2 linked regions of the Homo sapiens genome follow. The protein of the gene in region 1 interacts with the protein of each later gene in a pairwise test. Each region holds a gene or a part of one and is shown in the gene's direction. Other genes may lie near its edges.

Region 1 (3,753 bases):
CAGAGCTTTCTGCTTCTGTCTCATGCGTTCCTGTGTTGATGTGGATAGTCAGCAATATTTAAACAGAGCTCCTAAGAAACATGCCACACGGGAATTCGAAAAGAAATTTCAATGAAGCAATATATGCCTTGACATCCCTTAAAATGTAGCTTCACGTAGTCATTATCTCAACCAGTTATATTATTTCTTTTTCATTTTTCAGTTCTGTCAATCACTCCTTTTTCCCAGTTTGACAATTAAAGATGAAAAATATCTTCTGTTTATATGTCATTTTTCCTTTTGTGGATTGCACAAAAGGAAAATCTTTAAGCTTTACTTCATTTTCTTTTCTTCTTCACATCATAAAAATGATCCTTTCTTTGAAATTTTACTTTCTCTCTGCTTCATCGGGCTACCTTAAATCCAAATATGGGAGAAAATGTTTTCTGCTCACTTCTTAAACTTTGAAAGTTTAAAATCTCAACTTTTAAAATCTTATTTTCCCAAGATTAATCTAAGTCTCCCTCCACCACAAATCTGTAACTGATAGAAACTTGATGAAGAAAATGTCATATATTTTCTTTTCTTTTTTTTTTTTTTTTTTGAGACAGAGTCTTGCTCTGTCACCCAGGCTGGAGTGCAGTGGCGCGATCTCGGCTCACTGCAAGATCTGCCTCCTGGGTTCATGCCATTCTCCTGCCTCAGCCTCCCGAGTAGCTGGGACTGCAGGCGCCCGCCACCATGCCAGGCTAATTTTTTGTATTTTTAGTAGAGACGGGGTTTCACCGTGTTAGCCAGGATGGTCTCGATCTCTTGACCTCTTGATCTGCCCGTCTCGGCCTCCCAAAGTGCTGGGATTACAGGCGTGAGCCACCGCCCCGGCCAAATGCTGCATATTTTCTGCATCAGCCTAAGGGACACCCTGAAGTTTGGCACCTCACAGGTCAACAAATGAGAATATTTCTGTAAATATTAAGTTTTAACTTTTTATAAGGTTTATAACGTCTGTTTAACAAAATTATAACAACTCATACTACTGTGCGTCTGTCCTGCCTCTTTTTTAGAAGACAGTCTACTTGATCCTCCTTTTGCCCTTTCTACCATATAGTTTTTGTTTTAATAATATCCACAAATGACTCAGATTTTTTGAACCATGAAACTCTCAAAGTTTAATCAGTGAGCAGAAACGATTTTCTCCCATATTTGGATTTAAGGTAGTCCAATGAAACAGAGAGAAAGTAAAACTGTAAAGAGAAAATCATTTTTTATGATGTTAAGAAGAAAAGAAAATGAAGTGGCAGCTTAAACTTTGGAAAGATCAGACAGAGAGCTTAAGGTGATCTCCAGAAGAAAATTGCTAGTCGAATTTTCTCAGATAAACATTTATGCTTAGTATAGCACTACTGTTAGAGCATCATTATTTTGAGAAGAAAGTTCAAATTGTCTTGCGTTTAGGGGTTTCTATGTCCTACTGCAGACATAATATTAAAAGGTAGGAAAACATATTTGGTTAATACCTAATATAATACAGTTTGGTAAATATAGTTCCCTTGTCTTGTAAATATCTTATTTTGAAATATCAGCCATTTGTATAGGCCCAAGGGTCTTGTGTCATCTTCAGAATTCTAGTTCCTTCAGCCCAGGAATTCAAAGCAGCAAGAATAACACCACAAAATAAGCTCATAAGCTTATTTTAATGCTATAGTGCTGGATACATAAGATAATCATCTGGTGATTTTTATTTTGGCAAAAAATGTTTTTATAAGTGAAGATTATCAGAAAAGTGTCAATGAGTATTTTTTCTGGCTTAAAGAACTCCAATATGTTTTCAGTGCCAAGGAGAAGGACAGCCTTGTGTATTTAATTACTTTAGCTTATTTTGTCCTCTGGCATGATCTGTTCCCTGATTTCACCACAGTAGAGCTTGCTTTGAAGTTGTAGAAAAATTAAATCAATCACTTGGATCACATGTGTCCCAAAGAATGTGGCTTCCCAGGTAAAAGCAATCTTTCAATCCCCTACTCTCGTTTCACTTTGGCATTTCAACAGCGTTGCAGAATTCTTCGGCAGATAATTTATTTTATCCCTTGGTCCCAGCAGCTCTTATTAAGAGTTTCAGAATTGCCTGTACAAGGTGCACCTTTCACATTACAAGGGATCGGCTCATTTCTTGATGCTTATGCAACCACTTATAACTATGCCTACAGGTAAACATACTGCTGTCTTCTTGGAAGACCGAGAAGTATAAAGAATGTTTATGTGCAGGTCTAGCTGTTCCAAGTACCCAAGTGTTGGTTTAGACACACCTGGATTACCATCCACCTTTTATTGGCTGAGAAAGTTGCCACACCTGATTTGTAAGTTTACCTGTTGCAGCCAATAGCAGGGCCATCTCAGCCAGCCAGCACTGGATACTATCTGGCCAGAAGTAGCAAAGCAGCTCTTATTTGAAAAACCACTGGGTTCCGAGTTCATTACTACAGGAAAAACTGTTCTCTTCTGTGGCACAGAGAACCCTGCTTCAAAGCAGAAGTAGCAGTTCCGGAGTCCAGCTGGCTAAAACTCATCCCAGAGGATAATGGCAACCCATGCCTTAGAAATCGCTGGGCTGTTTCTTGGTGGTGTTGGAATGGTGGGCACAGTGGCTGTCACTGTCATGCCTCAGTGGAGAGTGTCGGCCTTCATTGAAAACAACATCGTGGTTTTTGAAAACTTCTGGGAAGGACTGTGGATGAATTGCGTGAGGCAGGCTAACATCAGGATGCAGTGCAAAATCTATGATTCCCTGCTGGCTCTTTCTCCGGACCTACAGGCAGCCAGAGGACTGATGTGTGCTGCTTCCGTGATGTCCTTCTTGGCTTTCATGATGGCCATCCTTGGCATGAAATGCACCAGGTGCACGGGGGACAATGAGAAGGTGAAGGCTCACATTCTGCTGACGGCTGGAATCATCTTCATCATCACGGGCATGGTGGTGCTCATCCCTGTGAGCTGGGTTGCCAATGCCATCATCAGAGATTTCTATAACTCAATAGTGAATGTTGCCCAAAAACGTGAGCTTGGAGAAGCTCTCTACTTAGGATGGACCACGGCACTGGTGCTGATTGTTGGAGGAGCTCTGTTCTGCTGCGTTTTTTGTTGCAACGAAAAGAGCAGTAGCTACAGATACTCGATACCTTCCCATCGCACAACCCAAAAAAGTTATCACACCGGAAAGAAGTCACCGAGCGTCTACTCCAGAAGTCAGTATGTGTAGTTGTGTATGTTTTTTTAACTTTACTATAAAGCCATGCAAATGACAAAAATCTATATTACTTTCTCAAAATGGACCCCAAAGAAACTTTGATTTACTGTTCTTAACTGCCTAATCTTAATTACAGGAACTGTGCATCAGCTATTTATGATTCTATAAGCTATTTCAGCAGAATGAGATATTAAACCCAATGCTTTGATTGTTCTAGAAAGTATAGTAATTTGTTTTCTAAGGTGGTTCAAGCATCTACTCTTTTTATCATTTACTTCAAAATGACATTGCTAAAGACTGCATTATTTTACTACTGTAATTTCTCCACGACATAGCATTATGTACATAGATGAGTGTAACATTTATATCTCACATAGAGACATGCTTATATGGTTTTATTTAAAATGAAATGCCAGTCCATTACACTGAATAAATAGAACTCAACTATTGCTTTTCAGGGAAATCATGGATAGGGTTGAAGAAGGTTACTATTAATTGTTTAAAAACAGCTTAGGGATTAATGTCCTCCA
Region 2 (3,753 bases), on another chromosome or scaffold:
TGAGCAGTGTACAGCCTGCACAACTGTACATGGCATACTATGTACATGGCTCAGGTTCTGGGGCCATCCTGACAGCATTCTGTCTGGTTCCCAGACTGCCGCCGAATTACCTGTCCTGAAGGCTGGCTGCCCTTTGAGGGCAAGTGTTACTACTTCTCCCCAAGCACCAAGTCATGGGATGAGGCCCGGATGTTCTGCCAGGAGAATTACTCTCACTTGGTCATCATCAATAGCTTTGCTGAGCACGTGAGTTCTTCCCACTGAACCTTTGAGAACCTTCAGGGACAGCCTGCTTCTCTTCCAGGATGCACACATCCCTCCCTTCCCTGGATGGCAAGAAATTAGAATTACTTTTCAGTTACTAAAACTTTAACAGCAAGCTCTTCCTAAGGTAGTATCATGCAGAGGTTAAGAAGACATGCTTTGTTTTTGAGTTCAAATTCTGGTTGTGTTGATTTAACCTCTGTACATTTCAAGTATCGGTTTTATCTCTAACATGAAAATACAATAATTAATATCTGTTAGGTAGCACTTTTTATGTTTCAGGTTGCATTCCAAATACTTTACATCTTACAGTCATTAACACATGCAATCCTCACGACAACCTATACATTAGTATGCCAGTCGGAAGAGTTTATTTCTTTTCTTTTCTTTTTTTTTTTTGAGATGGAGTCTCGCTCTTTCACCCAGGCTGGAGTGCAGTGGCTGGATCTTGGCTCACTGTAAGCTCCGCCTCCCGGGTTCACGCCATTCTCCTGCCTCAGCCTCCTGAGTAGCTGGGACTACAGGTGCCCACCACCACGCCCGGCTAATTTTGTTTTTGTATTTTTAGTAGAGACAGGGTTTCACTGTGTTAGCCAGGATGGATGGTCTTGATCTCCTGACCTCGTGATCTGCCCGCCTCGGCCTCCCAAAGTGCTGGGATTACAGGCGTGAGCCACCACGCTCGGCCTTCTTTTTTTTTTTTTTTTTTTTTTTTTTTTTGAGATGGAGTCTCACTCTGTCACCCAGGCTGGAGTGCAGTGGTGCAATCTTGGCTCACTGCAACCTCTGCCTCCCGGGTTCAAGCAATTCTAGTGCCTCAGTCTCCCGAGTAGCTGGGATTGCAGGCATGTGCCACCACGCCTGGCTAACTTTTGTATTATTAGTAGAGATGAGGTTTCTCCATGTTGGCCAGGCTGTTCTCGAACTCCTGACTTCAGGTGATCCTCCCACCTCTGCCTCCCAAAGTGCGGGGATTATAGGTGTGAGCCACCACGCTGGGCTAGGAGGGGTTACTTTATGCTGCGGTAACAGACAGTCTCCATAGTCCAATGGTGAAAGTAGACGAGGGAAATCATACATTGACTGTCAGAGTTTCCATTTACTTTTGCTCACAAAAGTCACATGTACACGCCTATCTTTTAAGGTGGTAGGGAAATAAGTCTCACCTCCGTGCAACCAGAAGGAGGATTGGAATATGGGTAAATAGCTTTAATGATTTGCTACTACAATTTAGGTAGTATTACTATTTGTACACAATATGTATCATCTGTACTTCACAGGTGAGGAAGTCAAGGTTCCAGTACATGTAAGCAACTTGCCTGGAGTCACTTACAGCTAGTGGGATTTAAGCCTAGGTAGCCGGCTTTCAAGTCCATGGTCTTGACCATAGACATAGGACTATAGTATGGTTTATGTTTCCTTTTTTCTGTTTTTCAGGGACAAGGTCTCACTCTGTCACTCAAGCTGGAGTGCAGTGGTATAATCATAGCTCGTTGCAGCCTCAAAGTCCTAGGCTCAAGCAATTCTTTCGCCTCACCCTCCTGAGTAGCTAGGACAACCAGGCACTTGCCACTGTACCCAGCAAATTATTATTATTATTATTACTTTTTGAGATGGAGTCTCGCTCTGTCACCCAGGCTGGAGTGCAGTGGCGCGATCTCGGCTCACTGCAAGCTCTGACTCCCGGGTTCACGCCATTTTCCCACTTCAGCCTCCCGAGTAGCTGGGACTACAGGCGCCCGCCACCACACCCAGCTAATTTTTTGTATTTTTAGTAGAGACGGGGTTTCACTGTGTTAGCCAGGATGGTCTCGATCTCCTGACCTGGTGATCTGCCTGCCTCGGCCTCCCAAAGTGCTGGGATTACAGGCATGAGCCACCGCGCCTGGCCCAGCAAATTATTTTTACTTTTGTAGAGACAGGGTCTTGCTATGTTGCCTAGGCTCTATGTTTTCTATTCATTTTATTTTTAATTTATTTATGTCATTATATTTAAAATGTTTTTTTTTTCCCAGACAGTATATAGTTGGGTTTGGATTTTTAAAATCTGATCTGATAATCTCTGGCTTTTAATTGGTGTTTTCATTTACTTATTTATGTATTTTTGGAGACAGGGTCTCACTTTGTCACCCAGGCTGGAGTGCAGTGGCGCAGCCTCAGCTCATGGCAGCCTTGGCCTCCTGGGCTCAAGTGATTATCCCACCTCAGCTCCCCACCAAGTAGCTGGGACAACAGGTGTGTGCCACCATGCCTGGATAATTTTTAACATTTTTTGTAGAGATGAGGTTTTGCTATGTTGCCCAGGCTGGTCTGGAACTCCTGACCTCAAGTGATCTGCCGCCTTCACCTCCCAAAGTGCTGGGATTACAGGCATGAGCCACTGTACCCAGCCTAATTGGTATTTTTAGACCGTTTACATTTAATATAATTACTGATTGGGTTGGATTTAGGTCTATCATCTTATTATTTTCCTGTATGTCGTGTCCCTTCTGTTTTTTATCCCTCTGTTTCATAGCATTATTTGTATGAGTAGTTAAACAGTTTTTTTTTTTTGAGATGGAGTCTTGCTGTGTTGCCCAGGCTGGAGTGCAGCAGCATGATCTTGGCTCACTGCAACCTCTGCCTCCCGAGTTCAAGTGATTCTCCCGCCTCAACCTCCCGAGTAGCTGGGATTACAGGCGCCCACCACCATGCCTGGCTAATTTTGTACTTTTGGTAGAGATGGGGTTTCTCCATGTTGGCCAGATTGGTCTCGAACTCCTGACCTCAGGTGATCCACCTGCCTTGGCCTCCCAAAGTACTGGGATTACAGGCATAAGCCACCGTGGCTGGCCAAAACAGGGCTTTTGAAGGAGTTAAATTAGGTAATGTAAATGAGGCAGGTGCAAATCATATTCCCTAACTCAGTTTCACAAGAAATACAACTACATTTCCTTTAAATTACTCATTTTAGTTTCTCTCTTGAGTTCTCATTCTGCTAGAATGGTGTACATTTACTCTCAGTCAATTGGGTTCTCCCATTTTACTTCTAAATGGGGACAGCTTTTGTGGGGTCAAGGTGGAAGGGAGCACACATCGGGTCTTTGCTGTCTTTACTCCAAACTGGTATCTACTGGGACATCTACAGACTGAATGATCCTGGGAAGGTTACTTAACCCCTCTGTGCCTCAGTTTTCTCATCTACAAAATGGGCATAATGATAATACTTGCTTCAGTGAGTCATGATAAGGATCCAATGAGACAATCTGTGCAAAGTAGTATAGCTCACTTTTTTTTTGAGATGGGATCTTGCTCTGTTGCCCAGGCTGGAGTGCAGTGGCATGATCTTGGCTCACTGCAGCCTCCATCTCCCAGGTTCAGGCAATCCTCCTGATTTAGCCTCCCAAGTAACTGGGACTATAGTCACGTGCCACCACTCCCAGCTAAGTTTTGTATTTTTTTTTTTAGTAGAGTTAGGGTATCATCATGTTGGCCAGGCTGCTCTCTAGC

What was found. The genes of interacting proteins can lie anywhere in the genome.
Region 2: the proteins of CLDN8 (region 1) and CLEC17A interact in binary tests that used the Homo sapiens proteins (3 or more experiments, as listed by UniProt).

What each region holds. Positions count from the first base shown.
Region 1 is NC_000021.9:30,214,730-30,218,482, reverse strand, and holds the start of CLDN8 (claudin-8), read left to right. Parts: upstream 1-2,385; 5' UTR 2,386-2,557; coding exon 2,558-3,235; 3' UTR 3,236-3,753.
Region 2 is NC_000019.10:14,599,937-14,603,689, forward strand, and holds part of CLEC17A (C-type lectin domain family 17, member A), read left to right. Parts: intron 1-94; coding exon 95-246; exon of another isoform or gene 247-326; intron 327-3,753. UniProt on the Homo sapiens protein: Cell surface receptor which may be involved in carbohydrate-mediated communication between cells in the germinal center. Binds glycans with terminal alpha-linked mannose or fucose residues.